Regions from separate parts of the Homo sapiens genome. Here all the other regions are linked to region 1. Evidence: fine-mapped expression QTL. Tissue or cell type: whole blood. Region 1 holds a variant in brackets; each other region holds the start of a gene. Each region is shown on its reference strand, or each on the opposite one.

Evidence for each region. PIP is the estimated chance that this variant, and not a neighbour inherited with it, causes the effect.
Region 2: it holds the start of CYBB, and the variant in region 1 is fine-mapped to the expression of CYBB in whole blood (TOPMed, PIP above 0.99).
Region 3: SIGLEC12 starts here. The variant in region 1 is fine-mapped to the expression of SIGLEC12 in whole blood (TOPMed, PIP 0.97).
Region 4: BATF3 starts here. The variant in region 1 is fine-mapped to the expression of BATF3 in whole blood (TOPMed, PIP above 0.99).

Annotation. Positions count from the first base shown.
Region 1 is chr3:188,415,867-188,420,883 of GRCh38, reverse strand. All of the region lies in intron 4 of LPP (LIM domain containing preferred translocation partner in lipoma), which reads right to left. Among named protein-coding and RNA genes, the nearest start is that of LPP-AS1, 150 kb to the left of the region's middle. The variant A/T (reference allele first, on the strand shown) is at 2,889.
Region 2 is chrX:37,777,771-37,782,787 of GRCh38, reverse strand. It overlaps CYBB (cytochrome b-245 beta chain), which reads right to left and starts at 2,729. Exons shown (of 13, transcript NM_000397.4): 1 at 2,666-2,729; 2 at 605-700. The coding sequence starts at 2,710. RefSeq lists an enhancer at 2,638-2,687.
Region 3 is chr19:51,499,542-51,503,541 of GRCh38, reverse strand. It overlaps SIGLEC12 (sialic acid binding Ig like lectin 12), which reads left to right and starts at 1,742. Exons shown (of 8, transcript NM_053003.4): 1 at 1,742-2,235; 2 at 3,242-3,622; 3 at 3,826-4,000. The coding sequence starts at 1,809. RefSeq lists an enhancer at 3,480-3,979.
Region 4 is chr1:212,697,500-212,702,516 of GRCh38, reverse strand. It overlaps BATF3 (basic leucine zipper ATF-like transcription factor 3), which reads left to right and starts at 2,677. Exons shown (of 3, transcript NM_018664.3): 1 at 2,677-2,844. The coding sequence starts at 2,755. RefSeq lists silencers at 2,660-2,739, 2,930-3,379.

The DNA.
Region 1 (5,017 bases):
AAAAACCATGTATCATGATATAATTGTGTACACGTTACACTTTCTACTGTAGTTACTACCACCACCACATACTCAGTTTTTGCTACAAACACAGCCTAGTAATGTTGGTAAGAGCAGAAATAAAAACCTGTTTTGTTTATTCAAGCAGCAACAATATAACTGGCTTGAGAGACTGGTGACCCCTAGACAGAGATGTTACTTTTCTTAATGGGTAAGTTAAGAATCTCTTCGAGGGTCTGATGGTGTTGTGAATGCTTTCCCTAAAAAAGACATACACGCAGACTAAGTTTAAATACAATTTCAGGAGACTGGCTTAATCCAAAATATGAATCTCAAAAACGAATGGAACCCAAAATAAAATCCCTAATTAAATTAATTTTTCTGAGATTGTGTAGTTAATAATCCCTAAAATCTCTCTGTAGCAACTGACATTTTGGAAAATTAATTTCTTTAATTAATAAAAATCAATAGTTTCTTTCTGAAATGTTCATTTACATTTTAACTGTACTTATAGTTCAATAGTAAAAACACTACTTTTCAAAGAGATAATATAAACATGAATCATTTTTTGCCACATTGACAAAGTTCAAGTAAAGTAATTCTACTTCTAACAAAGGTGTAATGCAAATTCAAAAAAGGAATCATAATTCTAGCAAGGACAAACATACACCAAGCCAATTCTAAAATCTCTATTAGCAAATACAAAAAGAAACAAGGATACAACTAAGATTATTTTTTAAATGGTCAGCATGAGCTATATGGGATTTTATAATTAAAATTTTATAATCAGAATTTTTTAAAAAAAACTATGGATAGAACCCTCAGAGCTAATGTTCATATTTTCATTTCAATAATAATAGCAAGAACAATGATTGCAGCTTCCACTGATTTTGTCATTATTTTGTCATGACTTAACTTTGAAAACAACTCTTTAAGATACAAATATCTCTATTTCATTTATTCATATATTTATTTATTATTTTTATTTATTCATTTATTTGAGATGGAGTCTTACTCTGACGCCTAGGCTGGAATGGAATGCAGTGGCTTACAGCAACCTCCACCTTCTGTGTTCAAGTGATTCGCCTGCCTCAGTCTCCCAAGTAGCTGGGATTACAGGTGTGTGCCACCACGCCCGGCTAATTTTTGTATTTTTAGTAAAGTCGGGGTTTTGCCATGTTGGCCAGACTGGTCTTGAACTCCTGATCTCAGGTGATCCACCCTTGGCCTCCCAAAGTGCTGGGATTACAGGCGTGAGCCACCACGCCTAGTGCATAACTATCTCTATTTTAAAACTGAAAGAACTTAGGTTGCCACTTATCCTGGTGAGTCCAAGTTTCCAGAGAATTAAGAGGTAAAATCAAAACTCGAAACCCAGATCTATCTGATGCCAGAGTCTACAAGCTTAACCACTGCCTCCCTGAGTCTTTCTTCTCTGTAACCTTCCAATACTACCTTGGCTCCAAGCAAACTCTTTCTTCTGATAGAGTTAGCCATGGAGTCACTTCACAAATAGAAGCTGTACAGTAAAGCTTTATATTGTTAGTTAACTGGGCATTTTCATATGTTGAATTTCTAATGAAAATATAAACTGTTTAAGGGCTAAGACGTGTTTTTACTTTTTCCTGTCCACTACAGAGCCTGGTTAAGTAACAATGGCACAAGATGGAAGTGAATAGGACCCAGTAAAAGAACGGAATTTAATGCAGATGTCAAGATATAAAACAGTGAAATCTTATCTACCAGGAATCACATTGGGTGGCATTCATGACACTTTACTCTCACCTCAAGTGGTGATATTTCTGGGAGACCTCATAGAACTTGGAGATTTCTTTCCCAGGAGGTAATTTTTACAGAGGATGCCCTTACTAAAACCCAAGTCATTACAACATTAACAGATCAATAATAAAAATAATGACGAATTAAAATGCCATTTCTATAGAACGGTAAAAAATAAAATAAAATGTCATTTTAATTCCATTGTAATGTCAATAAAACTACCCCTGATATCTGAAAAGTTTAAGCAAGATGACACAATTCAACTGAACTAAGGAAAATTCCAAATGGTTATTCCAAAGGTCTTGTCAAATAATGTCGCCTTGAGACACTATTTGAGAAACTTGGTAATAACTTCTTGAGACTACTTTGGCTGTTTTATATTTGTATACATCATAGACATCCATGCACAGGAGATTGATTTTAAGCAATTTTCACACATTATTTGGATGACCTTAACCTTCAAATCGCTCTGGATAGTAATAATTCGGGAAAATAATGATGGAAAAATTATTTCATTTAATACAAGTAATAATGGCATTAACATGAGATACAGTGTACTGCTGAGGAACAGCTACAGACTTGGATTTAGGAGACAAGGGTTCAATTCCCAGCTTTGCAATATGCTAGTTATTTCACTTTACATACATTATACTTGGCAGATTGAGGGTGATAATAACTTTTTTACAGAGTAGCTAGAAAGATAAAGTAAGCAGTAAAGCAAAGTGGACTTCAGATGAAATGGAAGCTAATAAATCCACTACAATATTTTTCAAATAGTTAAGATACTGTTCTGCCAGATAAGTTGTTTTAGTAATTGTAATAATTCATTATTACCAAATAGTGTTTATCGTACATTACCAATACTTAAGGGAAGATACTAAAATTTGGTCAAATGTGACTTCTACATTTATTAGCCTAACCTTGGGTCTCTGAATCACAGATTTTTCATTTGTCTTTAGGAACCATAATAATGTAGGAACTATAATAACGTTGCAGGATATTCTGGTGATTAAACTAGATATTATGTGAGAAAGTGCTCTAAAATTTATTCACATTTGTGCACACTCATACAAACACATTTTAAAATTACAAGTTGTAATGAACATTTC[A/T]CAATAAAATCCTTCTTTCATTGCTTCCTGTTTTCTCAGGATTACCCCAACGTGTGAACAAGTAAGAGAGCAAAACAAAACAAAAAATGATTAAGTTAGCTTACAACTCCATTCTTAAGCGTGTGTGTTTGACTAGGTAAAAAAAGCTGCCTGAAATTATTTCAGGAGATTTAAAGAGAATTGCCTTTTGCTTTTTCTTTCTTGCCTTAGCATTTGTATGCACAGGCACATTTCATTCTAAAATATAACAGACAAGTGCAGAGAGATAGCAATAGTACTTCTGGCCAGTACCTCCAGGAAAGTACTTCTTGCCTGTGGTATAAGATCATATTTCTTGGTCCTTCCTCTCTGAAGCTACCTAACTTCCTGGAGCTATTTCTAGAGGTAAGTTTCAGAGCACGCTAGAACATTTAGGTCTACCCATAGTGAAGTCACTCTGTTCACATTGCAAAGCTATTCCCAGGAGCCCAGATGCATTGCCTGAGGACATCAGCAAAGAGCTGCCAAAATTACAAGGGTCAGGATGGGGGCCATTCTCTGCTTTTGCACATGCTGTTCCCTTTACTTGGCATGCCATGCTGTCCACCACCCTTTTCTGCTTGGTAAACAACTAACTCATTCTCCAACACTCAGATCAGATGTGTCCTCGTCTGTGATGCTTTCCCCAGTTCCTCCTAGAGGACATCCTTCATATTATATTACGGCACTAAATTTACATAATGCAATTTTTATGCACATGTGGTGCCTGTTATATGTCTATCTTGACTAGTAGACTTATCTATTCTGTTTGAAGACAGCGACATACAGAACAATGTAAAGAACATATAATAAGGGAGAGTGCTGGAAGAGCAAACTGCTAGAAGACTCAGGATGCCACATCCCAATGACCTATACTCCTCTGCCCCAGGTGCTGTCCTCAGCCATCAGGTCTCTCTGAATGCAGTAATTTTAAGAAAGGATGATAAAAATATCATACTGATTTTTTTTAAGTTCTTTAGGTTAATCGTTATTCTAGGGTATGATTTCTTTATATGGTATATTTGCCCAAAGGCTCAGGTGTCAGATTTATTTTTATAATGTCCATAATGAATCCATTTTTAGATAATTTACATAGGCCTACTGTGACCCAAAATTGGCTGAGATTTCAGGCATTGCTACCCAAAGCAACACAATAGCAAGAGCTCTGTAATGCAGAAGCTTGTCCATGGCTAGGGCATTCTCGAAGAATCCATTTTTTTGTTGTTGTTTGAAATTTTCTGGTTTTGGATCCCAAATAAAATGACCCAGGACAACATATGCAAACGATTGGTGTCTATAATGAAAGCACTGAGGGAAAAGAATAGCAACATGAAAGATGCTCTAGGTCTCTGAATCTGTACAATGTTCACAAGATAAAGACTCTCAAGACTTCAAAAGCTACCATCATTAACTACGGGAGGAAGAGTACACTCTCAGGACTTGGAGAAGGTTCAAAGGAGATTAAGGCACTGGTCCCTGAAGTTAATGAAATAAATGAGTGGTTCCCAAACGTTGGTTGAGCATCAATCACAATTCCCGGGAAGTTCTGTTTTATTTTTTATTTTGCTTTGTTTTAATGCAGATTCCTGGGCCCCATGGCCAGATATTTTGATTCTGTAAAATTGTGATGGGACCTAGGACTTGCTTTAATTTTTTTCTTTTGAAAAATGTTCTCCAAGTCTTTCTGATGACTGGCCAGCTTTGAAAACCACAGGTTTAAGCCATACATTTTGGCAGGGATACATATAGCAGTGATCTTTCAAAGTATCATGCAAGCAATTCAGATGGCATGTAAGATAGCACTTTGAGTAAGAGAAGAATACATTAAGATATCTATATGCATTCCTTTATTTTACTATTATTAATTTTTTTTTAAATATGGACTCATAGAAAGTTGCAAAAATAGTACAGAGTTTCCATGTACATTTTACCCAGGTTCCCTAAATGGTAATGCTCATAAAGCTGTAATACATTCGAAAACCCAGCAAACTGACATTGTTACCTTATTGTTAACTAGGAGTTACTCAGTTTTTACCATTTTATAACCTGCATTGATTTGTGTGTGCATACAGTTCTATGTAACTTTATCCCATGTATAGATTCATGTAATC
Region 2 (5,017 bases), not on the chromosome of region 1:
AGTTTCAGCATGATGTAACAGATGTCTTCTGGAGGCAAGAGGCCTGACAGTTCAAGGAAACTCAGAATACTAAAGGACCCAAGGAAACTGAAGGGCCTTCACTCTACTGTCCTAGTCAACAGATGTGGCCCTTGAGCAAGTTCCTCGAGTCTTTATATGTAGAGAGAGATTTATTTTCTGAAGATCATTTCATAACATGTGATTAGGAGCAGAGCTCTTCATGCAAAAAAGTACTAGGAATTAGGTGACTTAGAAAATATGGAAAGTCCCACTTGTCCCACATGTGTCACTCCTGGATGGATTGCTCCAACCTGCCCTTCCATTTCAGAGTGAGTATTAGATTTCTCCTTTAAGCTAAACAATGGCACATGGTTCTTGGTTGGGGAAGGATGCCACTGGGGCCCTCTGCCCCACTTTTGTTGGTCCCAGACTGGAAGGCTTTAAGTGACTGTTGCCCAGGAAGTTGCAATGGAGGGAGTGAGGCTAATGGTACTGTTTGGGTTGGTCAGAATATGTATTTAAAATGCTAACAGGAAGATGAACAAGAATGTCTGATGAGAAATGTGAACCAGCCAATATTGCATGGGATGGAATTTATACTTACCCCAAGAAGTTTTCTTGTGTAAAAGAACTTAGGTGGAATATCATAAACCCGGTAATACCAGACAAAGAGGAAGACGTTCAACCCCAGCCAAACCAGCTGCACAAACAGAAATAATTGCATGAAGTTTCCGCATTTCCACAGTAGATTCCACACAAGACTGGAGTCAGATAAGGGTCAGGACTTCCCCAAGTCCAACTTTGACAAAGGTAGTGACAAAGCTGGATATAACCAGCTTAGAGCCAGCTCTTTCCTCAACAGTGTCACTACACTTGTCTATAATTAAAACCTCTCCACCCTGTGTTGTTCCCCATGATTGTTTTATGATTTGGCCAGTATACCAAATTATCAGTCTTACATTACCCCACTCCCTTTTTTTCCCCTCTCTTTTGCTTAACCTTGGATAGGTAGCTGATAGCAGGCCACTCCACTTAAAATGAGAAAGGAAGGGAACATATTACTATTGCTTTCCCTCCACCAGTATGACACTGCGTTCTGTTCTCACAGGTGCTAATCACCTCCCTCTACCACACAGTAATCCAGCTAGTGAATTCTCATCAGCTAAAATGCCAAGCCTTCCATTTTCCTTGATTAGTTTTACTTAATGCTTCAAGGAGAGAATATTGAGCATAGTGAGGGGCTTGGGATTTACAACAAAAACAGCTTTCTAGATCATGACAGTTCATTTTATCCTAAGCACTGACTGGATCAAGTGGTCACACTACCCAGTTCTCTACCTTCAGCTCCATAGTGATCTTTTCTCAACTATGCTTTGAAGCTATTATATGCTCTAGACACTTGATAATATTCTCTCTTTACAAAGAAAAAAGTGCTAAAGCAACTTCCCAATTTCCTGATCTTGTCATTCTTTCTTTACTCTGACTTTCCAAGCTGTGTTTTCACTTTCAAGTGCATGAGTATATAATTTAGAAGGAGGTCATTTCCTGGGAAAAATTGTGGCGAGAGCTAAAAGTTTAATTTGAACTTACTTTCTATAGAAATTATTTGCCCTTAAAAATGGTGATAAGAAGTTAAGTTTACAGCTTCGAATACTCGGAAGAATTCTCTGTTGCAGTAGAATGTTGGTTTGGCGTAAACATTTTTTATAACAAAATATTTGTTGTTTTTATTTGTGCCACTAATTGCTTTCTATATTTAAAACTCAAAGACTCATTATTTTTCATGATAAATTTTTACAAAAGCTCCATTCATATTCCATTCATAATTGTACTTTTTAACATCTGTGTAATGCTTCTATTGGTTATTTAGAAAGGCTATTTAAAAATCGTATTTCTATCTACCCAATTTGTCCATTATTGCTTTGCTGATAACACCATTTTAAGAGAACAGTTGATTTTCTTTGTTTTAAAAAGTACAGAAATCATTCTGTCCACTTGTAAATTAGCTATATCTTTACTTACATAGTTTCTCCAGACTATATTGATTTATATATATATACAATTATATATAAATATACATACTACATATTTATGAATCTAGATGACTTATTTCAATTCTGTTCTTTTGAATTTTTATAAATCTTATAAATAACTCAAGTTTAGATCTCTGAAAAAAGAAGGTACTTGTTTTTGAAAATAAATTTGAGAAGTTTTATTATATTTAGTGTAATTACTGAAATAAAGGCCTACTTCCCATACATGAGTCAATCTTATATTTTTTATTTAGAAAATGGTATAAAATTTCAATTTGTCATTTTTAAAGTAGTATAAACACATAGACATGTGCGTCTGAGTAAACATTACTAAACAACTCAGAATCAGAGATCATTAGCATGAAATATTTTCTACTCCTTCTGCGAAATGCTGGCTAATTTATTCCTCCTAGGAATTCAGAAGTAAGCTAGAAGTGAGCCCCCAGATATGTTCTTTCCATTAAGGAATTTGGAAGAATGGACTCAGTCTGTTTACAGATAGATATAGGTTCACATGGTAAATCAGTTTCAACACAATTCCTCAAATGAACAAAAAAGCTTTGGTCTATTTTAGTTCCAAGATAACCCCGAGAAGTCAGAGAATTTATAACTTATCTCTTGTTGGTACTTACAATGACAAAAATGGAGAGCCCCTCATTCACAGCCCAGTTCCCCATGGTGGCAGAGGTTGAATGTGTTGTGTTTGCCTTTCTTCTATACTATGCTTCTTCTTCCAATGAGGAAATGAAAACAGCAGCCCTGGGGCAATCGGTTTCCTTTTCTTTTATCAGAAATTGGCTAATAATCATTGGTCAACTGAAAAGCTTGCATCCATAACAAACTTAAATCTTTAAACCTCAACAACTACAAAAAAAGGGTCTATAATGATCCAGTCACAATTAAACATAGTGGAAAATGAAACCAATTTCTACAACTAAGAGATAAATAACAGTGCATTTTAAGGGATGTATTTTACACAGTGAAATAACTTTTTAACTAACCAGCTATTTGATCACAATTTTTAAGCCACTCAACTAGACATGACTTCGTGCTGGGTAAAACACATTAAACAGGTGTGATTTTGACAGGCTGGAACAGCATTCATAGCCTTGCTGAGAAAAGTAGTAACAATTGTAATGGTTGATATTTACAAAATGCTTAATATGTGCCAATTTTATGTGCTATATATGTCTATATATGTGTGTGTGTATGTTCATGTATAGCTATCATATATATATATATATATATATATATATATATATATATAATTTGAAACATACATATATAAATACAGATGCTTTGGCCAATGATGAACCACATGTATGACAGTGGTCCCATAAGATTATAATGGTGTTGGCCAGGCACGGTGGCTCACGCCTGTAATCCCAGCACTTTGAGAGGCTGAGTGGGGTGGATCACTTGAGGTCAGGAGTTTGGGACCAATCTGGCCAACATGGTGAAACCCCGTCTCTACTAAAAATACAAAAATTAGCTGGGCATGGTGGTGGGCACCTGTAGTCCCAGCTACTCAGGAGGCTGAGGCAGGAGAATCACTTGAACCTGGGAGTCAGGTTGCAGTGAGCCGAGATTGTGTCATTGCACCCCAGCCTGGGCGACAGAGCAAGACTCCATCTCTCTCTCTCTCTCTCTCTCTCTCTCTCTCTATATATATATATATATATATACATATATATATAATATATAATATAATATATAATATATATACTTGTGTGTGTGTGCTGAAAAATTCCTACCATCTAGTGACATTGTAGCATAACACATTACTCATGTGTTTGTGGCAATGCTGGTGTAAACAAACCTACTGAGCTGCCAGTTGTAAAAGTATAGCACATACAATTATGTACATTACATAGTACTTGATAGTAAAAATAGATGACTATGTTACTGGTTCATTTATTTACTAGACTATACTTTTAATCATTATTTTAGAGTATACTCCTACTTATAAAAAAGTTAACTGTAAAAGAATCTCAGGCAGGTCCTTCAGAAGGTATTCCAGAAGAATGCATTGCTGTCATAGATGACAGCTTCATGCATGTTAGTGCCCTTGAAGACTGTCCAGTGGGGCAAAATGTGGAGGTGGAAGACAGTGATATTAATGATCCTGACTTTGTGTGGGCCTAGGCTAATGTGTATGTTTGTGTCTTAGCTTTTAACAAAAATGTTTTAAAGGTAAAATATAAAAATAAAAAATTTAAAAACAGAATAAAGCTTCTAGATATGGATATTAAAACATTTTTGTACAGCTGTAAAATTTTTTTTGTTTTAAGCTTAGGGTTATTACAAAAGAGTCAAGAAATTAAAAAAGCAAAAGTTTATAAATAAAAAGTTACAGTAAGCTAAATTTATTTCATTATTGAAAAAACAAAATGTTTTGCATATTTAGTATAGCCTAAGTGTACAGTGTTCATAAAATCTATAGGAGTGTACAAAAATGTTCTAGGCCTTCCTATCCATTCACCACTCACTCACTGACACATAGAGTAACTTCTAGTTCTCCAAGCTCTACTCATGGTAAGTGCCTTATACAGGTGTACCATTTTTAATCTTTTATACTTTATTTTTATTGTCTATTTTCTATGGTTAACTATGGTTAGATACCATTGTGTTAGAATCTCTGACAGTATTCAGTACAATAAAAAACGATAAGGTTTGTAGCCTAGCAGCCATAGGCTATACCATGTAGCCTAGGCGTGTAGTAGACTATACCATCAGGTTTATGTAAATACACTCTATGATTTTCACACAACAACAAAATCACCTAAGGATACATTTCTCAGAACAAATCCCCCATAGTTAAGTGATATGACTGCATATATGTGTGTATTACACATATAGACACACATGCAAACACACACACATCAATTCATTTGATCCTCACAACTCAACCACTGTAAAGCAGATTCTATTATTATGATTATATTTACAGATAAGGAAACTGAGTTCCAGAGCAGTTCAGTTAC
Region 3 (4,000 bases), not on the chromosome of region 1:
TTGCCAACTGGGGACTGTGGGAAAGAGATGGGCCGTGGTCGAGCCCTTCTTCCCATTGAGATGCTGCAACTGTCCTTACGGGAAGAAAGTGACACGGCAAGGATGGGGGCCCAGGAGCAGATTGGTCTGCAGGATGAGATACAAGCTGCAAATGCAGGAATTAGTGGTGTCAGGGAGAGGAGCAGCTATGCATGCCCCAATCCTGCACATTTCCTTTTCAATTATCACAGCCAACTGACTCTACTCCAGGTTATGGGCAATTGGGGACAACATGGGGATGGGAAGATCCATGGAGCTGAGTAAAATAAAACAGATTGTGGTTTTTATGTAAAAATAGTCTTTAGAAAAACCTATGCAAAGCCATAGTATTGAAGGCAGTGCACTCAGATGATAAAACTACATAGAAAAGCAAGGAGACCATTATCATTAAAGTGAGGCTGGGGCATCTTCAGGAGGAACTGCATGTGGCCTATAGGAAGGGGAAACACAGGGCTGAATAAATGAATGCAATTTCTTTCTTCATCTCATGGGAGAAATTTGGCAATTATCTTGTGATGTTCTATTTCTTGAACAGTGATAATTTGGTGAAAATCACTGAGTCATTTTTTTAGGTGGCACTTTTATTTACTTGTATTACATTTCCCCAAAAATCATTGTTTCAAGAAAAGCTGACATGGGTCTAAGGAGGGCGAATCTTGCAGGATTTTCCCCACCTTCCTCCCAGTACATAGCATACAGTTTCAAAAACTCTTCTGCTGAATTCAGGTGCATTTCTTCTCCCATGAAATCCTGTCCATCATTGAGCGTGGACACGCCAGGGCTGGTGTCCTCGCTCCACGTCTCCTGTTCACCTGAAACCCTGGGAGCAGAGCCTGCAGGAACAAAGGGCCAGCAGACCCCTCATGCTCTGGAGTAAGGAGGACTTGTGAGAGAGCAGTGGTGAAGGATCCCATCCTGAACCCAGAGAGCCATGGCCGAGAGAGAAACGCCTGCCCCTTTAGAAATCTGTCCCTTCCCATCCAACATTCCTCCCTTCCAGACCTCACTGTACAACAGTCACAGCCTTAGCTTCTCAGGCCTCCTGTGAACTGGGCTCTTCTCTGTGTCTTTGGTGTGTATCAACACACGGAATCCTCACCTCCACGACCCCGTGTCTCTCTGCTCAGTCCTCCCGAGACTGATTCCCCAACATAGGAGAGAGCGACCACACCCTGCCTGGTACCCCCACTGAAGCTCCTGCCATGGAGAGCTCAGATATCAGGAGCCTCAGTGTCTCCCCACTACACAGTGACTCTTTGGGGACAGTGTCTAGCTCTGCTGTGTTGAACTCCACCTCACGGCCGCTGAGGGAGGAAGGAGAGGTTGCCTGCTCATCCCACCTGCACCCCCATCTCTTATATCCTAGTGTCACCTCTGACCTACAGAGAGACATCCACAGCCTGTACTTCATAGGTCTGGCCACATGGGACTCATTTTCACCTTATGGAAAATATCACCCAAGGGGAAGGGCACTGAGAGGGAGGCAGTGGGCGGGGTGGGCCCTGCATGGGGTTGGAATCTGGGTGAGTCTTTCATCCTCTCTGGCCTCAGGGTCCCCAGGAGTGGACGGGGTAGTGGACGGTGGATCTTCCAGGGGTGACCCGGCCCTGACAGTGTCTGTGTGTGAAGTTCCTCCTGTGAGGTCACCGTTCAGAACCCACCCCCAACTTCCTGTGCGGCTTCCTCGAAATCTTGAGTTCTCAGTTCCTGAGAGAAGAACCCTGAGGAACAGACTTACCTCAGCAACCCTGGCACCTCCAACCCGACACATGCTACTGCTGCTGCTACTGCTGCCACCCCTGCTCTGTGGGAGAGTGGGGGCTAAGGAACAGAAGGATTACCTGCTGACAATGCAGAAGTCCGTGACGGTGCAGGAGGGCCTGTGTGTCTCTGTGCTTTGCTCCTTCTCCTACCCCCAAAATGGCTGGACTGCCTCCGATCCAGTTCATGGCTACTGGTTCCGGGCAGGGGACCATGTAAGCCGGAACATTCCAGTGGCCACAAACAACCCAGCTCGAGCAGTGCAGGAGGAGACTCGGGACCGATTCCACCTCCTTGGGGACCCACAGAACAAGGATTGTACCCTGAGCATCAGAGACACCAGAGAGAGTGATGCAGGGACATACGTCTTTTGTGTAGAGAGAGGAAATATGAAATGGAATTATAAATATGACCAGCTCTCTGTGAATGTGACAGGTAAGGCACGGGCTCCAAGAGAGGCCAAAGGCAAATGTGATGAGGGCTTTAGGGCACGGCTGAGACGGGACACATGTCCTGGGAGGGGGCCGGGGGTGATGGACTCAGGGGAGGAGCTGGACCAGAGCCTGAGCTTCCCCAGGACCGCACCTTGGATGCCCCTCCTGATCCTGCAAGCCCCTCCCCTCACCAGCCCTGACCCACAGGCCTGACATCCTCATCCTGCCTCTGACGCTGGCACTGTGGCATGTGGGGCCTTATGACTCCTTGTTTTGGGGCCTGTCCTAGGCATGGCCGGGGTTTAGCACCATCCCAGGCCTCTCCCCACCAGATGCCAGAAGCACCCACCCCACCCATGCAGCGAGACAATTATCTCCACACATTGTCAAACGTCCTGGGGGGTTAAGTCCTCCCCAGTTGAGAGCCTTAGGTCTACACAACCCCGTGACTCTCTCAGGCCAGGCCAGGGAGGAAGCACTTCCTGGCGCAAACCAAGGGCAGCAGAGGCACCTGAGCCTGGACAGGGAGACTCAGCACACGGCCCCTCCATCTCTCATGCCCCGAGGTCCTCGGAGATCCACATTTAGATGCTCAAAAGACAGGAGGGACCTCCACGATGGTCCAGAGGCCGGGAGGGCAGGACCTACGTGTCTGGTGCAGGCCCTGGTGCTTCAGGGAAGCCCGGAGGTAGGAGGCGGGACACGGTCTCTTCTCCTCCCTGGGTGGGTCTCTAGGGTCTCTGAGCTTTAGGGTTTCCTTCACTCTGTGCAGAGGGAATGAGTTCCTATAGCATGTGGGTTTGCAGTTTCTCTTCCATGCAGGGCTGAGGTCTCCAGCTCCTCTCCAGCCCCCTGTGGGTCCCACAGCCCTGCCCCTCCTCTCCCTCCCCCTTCTCTGCTCACACAGGGAGCCCAGGAAGCCTCTGCCTCAGAGATGCTGCTGCCCCTGCTATGGGCAAATGAAGAGAGGGACAGTGGGGGCTGGGCTGACCCTCGTTTCTCCACAGCGTCCCAGGACCTACTGTCAAGATACAGGCTGGAGGTGCCAGAGTCGGTGACTGTGCAGGAGGGTCTGTGTGTCTCTGTGCCCTGCAGTGTCCTTTACCCCCATTACAACTGGACTGCCTCTAGCCCTGTTTATGGATCCTGGTTCAAGGAAGGGGCCGATATACCATGGGATATTCCAGTGGCCACAAACACCCCAAGTGGAAAAGTGCAAGAGGATACCCACGGTCGATTCCTCCTCCTTGGGGACCCACAGACCAACAACTGCTCCCTGAGCATCAGAGATGCCAGGAAGGGGGATTCAGGGAAGTACTACTTCCAGGTGGAGAGAGGAAGCAGGAAATGGAACTACATATATGACAAGCTCTCTGTGCATGTGACAGGTAAATCTCTGGCTCTAGGACCAGCCAGAGGGGAAGGCCCGAGGGCCGCAGGGTAGGGCTGAGGTGGGACCCCCATCCTGGGAGGGAGTTGGAGGTGAAGCATATCTGGCTCAGGGGAGGAGTAAGACCAGAGCCTGAGCCTCCTCAGCACCACACTTCAGACCCCAACACCCTCATTTTGCCTGTCTCCCTTTCATCACCAGCCCTGACTCACATGCCCACCTTCTCCATCCCGGGGACCCTGGAGTCTGGCCACCCCAGGAACCTGACCTGCTCTGTGCCCTGGGCCTGTGAACAGGGGACGCCCCCCACGATCACCTGGATGGGGGCCTCCGTGTCCTCCCTGGACCCCACTATCACTCGCTCCTCGATGCTCAG
Region 4 (5,017 bases), not on the chromosome of region 1:
ACTCTCCCCAGCATTTGATATTACTTTTTATTTTGCTAACTTAAAAAGGGTTCTTATTTTAATATATATTTTCCTATACCTATTTTCCTTGATTATTTCTTCTGCTGGGAAATGCCATTTCATATCCCTTCTGCAATTTACCTTTGCGGGTTGTCTCAATATTCTTCTTCTTCTTTTTCGTGGGCTGTATATTAACCCTTTCTCATATGCACTGTATTTATCCAATCTGTTTGTTTTACATTCCTGGTTATACTGTCATCTAAAACAATTTAGCCCTTTTATATAGTTCAGATCTTATCAAGTCAATTTCTCCTATTACATGTATTCTTATAAGATCCTTTCCTTATCTTATCTCCACAACTTTATTTTATTTATTTGAGATAAGGTCTTGCTCTGTTGCCCTGGAGGCTGGAGTGCAGTGGTGCAATCATAGCTCATTGCAGCCTCAAACTCCTGAGCTTAAGTGATCCTCCTGCCTCAGCGTCCTGAGTAGCTGGGACTACAGGTGTGCACCACCACACTCAGCTAGTTGATTTCTTTTAATTTTTGGTAGAGTTGGGGGTCTCACTATGTTGCCTATGCTTCCATGACTTAAATAAGAATTTAATTCTGCTTTAGCTCTCTGATTTTCATTTCTGTATCTAGCTATTTAATCCATTCATTTTGATGTATGATCTTTACATCAAATTGATCTCTGCCCTAAATGCTACCTAGTTAACCAAGACTAAATGTATTTGAAGAAACCCTTGCGTAACACAAGACAGTAGACTATGCCTATATAAAGAGTTCGTGTGTGCTGGGACATGGTTTCAGGCTCCCTGGGGAGAGACAGGGAAGCAGCAGCCCCAAAGGACTTAAAATGTGATGTGGTTCAGTGAGAAAAGTGGGCATGACCAGAATAAAGTGTAGGAGTGCACGGGAATGTTCCCGAGGTGTTTCTACCTTGCCTTTTCTGTGCATAAAAAACACTGGGGAATGAAATCACTTCTGAAAATGATAACCCCTTGACCCAGATGTTTTCCTAGCTCGTTAGAGCCCTTTTAGTGCTTCAGGAATGAGAGCTTTCAGCTGACCTAGTGCAATACATATACTGAGCACCTGTTGAGTGTATGTAGCGTGCTATGCTAGGCACCTTGTGTGGGTACCTTGTGGGATGCAAAATAGTCCTGGGGCAACCACCAGTTAAGCTGAGTGATGAAATAACGGAGAGGAAAAGATTAATCCGGGCAGATAACCCAGCGTAGCGCTGGCTCTGCTGCGCAGCCTTGCTGCTGTGGAGTGTGGCGCTGCAACTCTAAAGGGCTGCGTCCACCCTCCGTCTTCCTCCCCGCCTCTCAGTTGGCCGAAGCTTCTGATCACACAGACAAGAATCTCCGCTCGCTTTCCCGCTGGCCTCCAGGCAGCCAAGTTCACTCAAGCTCTCTCAAAGCTTTTGCAAGAGTGGGTCTTAAATCCTGGCGGGGGGCACGTGCACTCATTTAAGACTTAAAAAGGAATCGGAAATGACTGTCCCCATGCCCACTGCTGCCCACAAACCTGAAGACCCAAGCGACCACACTTGGTAGGCACTTCTGCCCTTCTGGTCTGGTTCCCACCCGCCCATCCCGAATCGCGGTTATCTTTCCCGGTGCTCACAGCATGCAGACCACAGCCTGTGGCCGCTAGTGTTTCCTTCGCTAGGACCACGGGTAATTGTCTTGGCTTCGCATCTTTTGACTGGCAGGCAGGTGGACAGGGACTTGCCCTACCTCAACCCGGTCCCCAGCTTGGCACGAGCAGATAAATCTTGAAAAAGAAAAATGATCTGGGCCGTTTAACCGTGGCATGGCGGGTCCAGATCCCCAAACCTGTCACTAGTGACGTCCCACGTGGCAGATTCGCTCTCAGGGAAGCCCGTCACCGTTTTTGTCCGGGACATCCTCCCCATGCCCACCCTCCGCTCCGGGAATTCACCCTCGGGGCCGCCCCGCCTCGTTCCCTCCCACAGCCCGGCGGACCCGAGACGGGAAGGGCAGGCACTCCCTGCAGAGTCCCTGGGGCGCCCGTGGCTCGGGGTGCGCGGTGGGACTCGGTGAAGCCGGCGTCTTCACCCCAGAGCCGCGGCTTCGGGGCCGCTGGAGGAGCGAGAGTGGCGCCCGGATGACTGATCGCCGCGGAGAAAGTCCCCCGGGACTGTGACCCCCGCGCCGGGGGGCGGACGCAGGGCGTGGCTGAGGCGCAGGAAGATGCCGCGATGGGACCGGGAAAAAACACCGACCCCAAAACACCCACTGTGTTTCTCAACCTGAGTTCCCCGGCAGCCGCCGAAGGACCCCAAAGGCTGCATGGCGCCCCCCTGGTCCCCACCCCCCCGGGCGTCGCCTCGCGTGGGTGGGCTTCGCGTTCCCTCCGGGGTTTCAGAGCCACCACGTGACTTCCACGAAGCGCGGGGCGCCGGCGGAAAGCCGCGGCAGGGGTGGGATTTGGGACCCCGAGGTGCGGAGAGAGGGCGGGCAGAGGAGGAAACGAGGCGGGGGTGGGAGAAGGAGGGCGGGGCAGACGTGGGACGGGAAGGACGGCTGCCGGGACTGGCGCGCGGGGACACTGGGCCGACGCGTGGAGTAGCGGGGAGAGCGGGAAGCCTGAGGGGGCGGGGCCGGCGCGAGGCCGTGGGTGCGGCACGAGGATGCCGGCGGCGGGACAGCGCCCGTAGGCAGCCCCACGGGCAGGGCGCGCGGGCGGGGCGGGGCGGGCCGGGCCAGAGGAGCGCCCGGCATGTCGCAAGGGCTCCCGGCCGCCGGCAGCGTCCTGCAGAGGAGCGTCGCGGCGCCCGGGAACCAGCCGCAGCCGCAGCCGCAGCAGCAGGTAGAGGGCGAGAGGCTCAGGGAGGGCCGTGGGGTGCGGGGACCGGCGCGCCGCGGGGGGCGAGGAGGTGGGTGCTGGAGTTCCGTGGTGGTGACTGCGGAGGTGCAGAGGTGGCGGGTGCGGCCGGAGACAAGCAGAGGTAGGGGCGTAGGGATGTTGGGGAATGGGGGCGATCCAGGGACCCTGTCGTGCGCACAGTGTCCGCGGCTCCTGGAATGGCTCCTGAGCCAGCTCCTGCGCCCTCTGGGGGAAGAAGCCCGAGGGCGCCGACGCCTGGCTGGGCCGGGCATGGCCGGTGCTCCCCGGCACGTGGGCTCCGCACTGCCCTGAGGGCCGCCCCATCCTGGCGCAGCCAGCGACTGCCACCCCACCACCCGCGCCTGTAGCCCCTCCAGGATTCCCCCGGGTGGGGGGGGTGCTGCCGCGGGAATGGAGAACGCCGGACTAGTCAGCCTGGGCGGAGGGAACCCACAAAGGGCCGACTCCGCCCCCAGCTGGTGGAAACCCTTTGCCCCTTCCCAGTTCGCTGTCCCCTAGCAACGTTTACAGCGGCGCAGTCAGGAAGGAGACCAGGTTGGCCACAGGGACGGCCGTCTGGAAACTTTGCCTGGGTCTTGGCCACCTGCCTTACGACGAAGACTGGGTCTTTTCATCCTTACTCCCCACCTTCCCAATTCAGCGCCCGGCCCATGTCATCAGGTGTCGCTGGAGTGTCACAGAGATCTGAGTTTGGGCCTGGGCTTTGCCACACACAGGCTGAGCAGCCTTGAGCAATTTGTTTAACCTCTCGGACCGTCCATTTCCCCATCTGTAAAATGAATATAGTAACATCAACCTCTCAGGATTTTTGAGACTGAATCAGATATGGTTAATAACATAATACTATCTCTAACTTTCGCTCACCTCTTTCTGTCTTGATTAAATGTTTCTGCTGGGTTGGCAGGTGTGATCATGGTGATGAGTCCAGTTTAGAGTCAGCTCCCCGAGGGCAGTATGCAGGCTGCTTTCTTGTGCTAGTGACTTTTTGATTACAGAGAGCAAAGAGGCATGAGAAGCACTATGCAGAATACATTTTTTTTTAAAGTAGCAACTTCAACAAAGGCAGGTAACTTCTTGAGGGCATACTGTATGCTGGGAGCTTTAGGACAAAATCTCATTTCATCGCATCCCAATCCTAAGCATTAGGCTGTTAGCACCAAGTCTGCAGAGTTCACTGACCCTTTGTTTAGGGCTTGTATCCCCAGTGTCTAGAACAGTGTCTGGCACATGGTAGGTGCTCAGTTAATACATATTGAAAGAATGAATGAATTATGCTTACAATAAATGAGAAAACTGAAAATTTAGAGAATTTAAACCATTTACACAAGACCATGTTGACACTAAGAGACAAAACTAGGATCTGTGTGATTCTAAAGCTAAAGAGCTGTCTTCTAACCACATGTTCCCCTGTAATGTTCTGGTTTTGTTTATCAAGACTTCTTTGCCTCTCTAGAAGACTGTATTATCATACTTTGTTCCCTTAAGCTTCTATTTGCTATGTATGTTATTTATTCCTCTCCTTTTTATGCCTTTATATTCTTGCATATCTGAAACTTCTTACCTGCAGTAACTTGGGAAGATGTGTGTCTTATGTGGAATACAAGATGAGATCAAATGATAACTGAAAATATCCTTTTTTGTGTTATTAATATTTGCATTCCGTGAATATTAATAACTGAGTAGTTTTCCTTGTTTGTACCTCTTGGCTCTTAAACTCTGTAAGTGTGGTATTTTTCCCGCTTGGTGGTGTCTTCTCATGGGGTTCTAGAAAGCAAATACTGCTCTCCTTTTTCATGTTTTCTATAGCTGATTGAAGTGTTTTTACCATGGTCAGTGCATTTTTCCGCCTGCCTGTTTCATGATCACTATTGAGGGATTTGACTGAATTTGGTTAAATCTTACATATAGCTAACAGCTTTCAAGACACATAAAAAATTTGCTGACTTCTGAAACAAAATGTCAGCCAAGCATTGTTCAAATGAGTACACTGTCAGTGGGGTTTAAGATCATTTGGTGTGTTGGTAGAGTTATGTGGCTGCAATTAGTTGTAAGTGTAATCATGATTTGCATGCAGTATCAAAAGTACCTTTCATGTGTGGTGGTATAAGGACTGGCAAACAGCAAGTTCCAGATA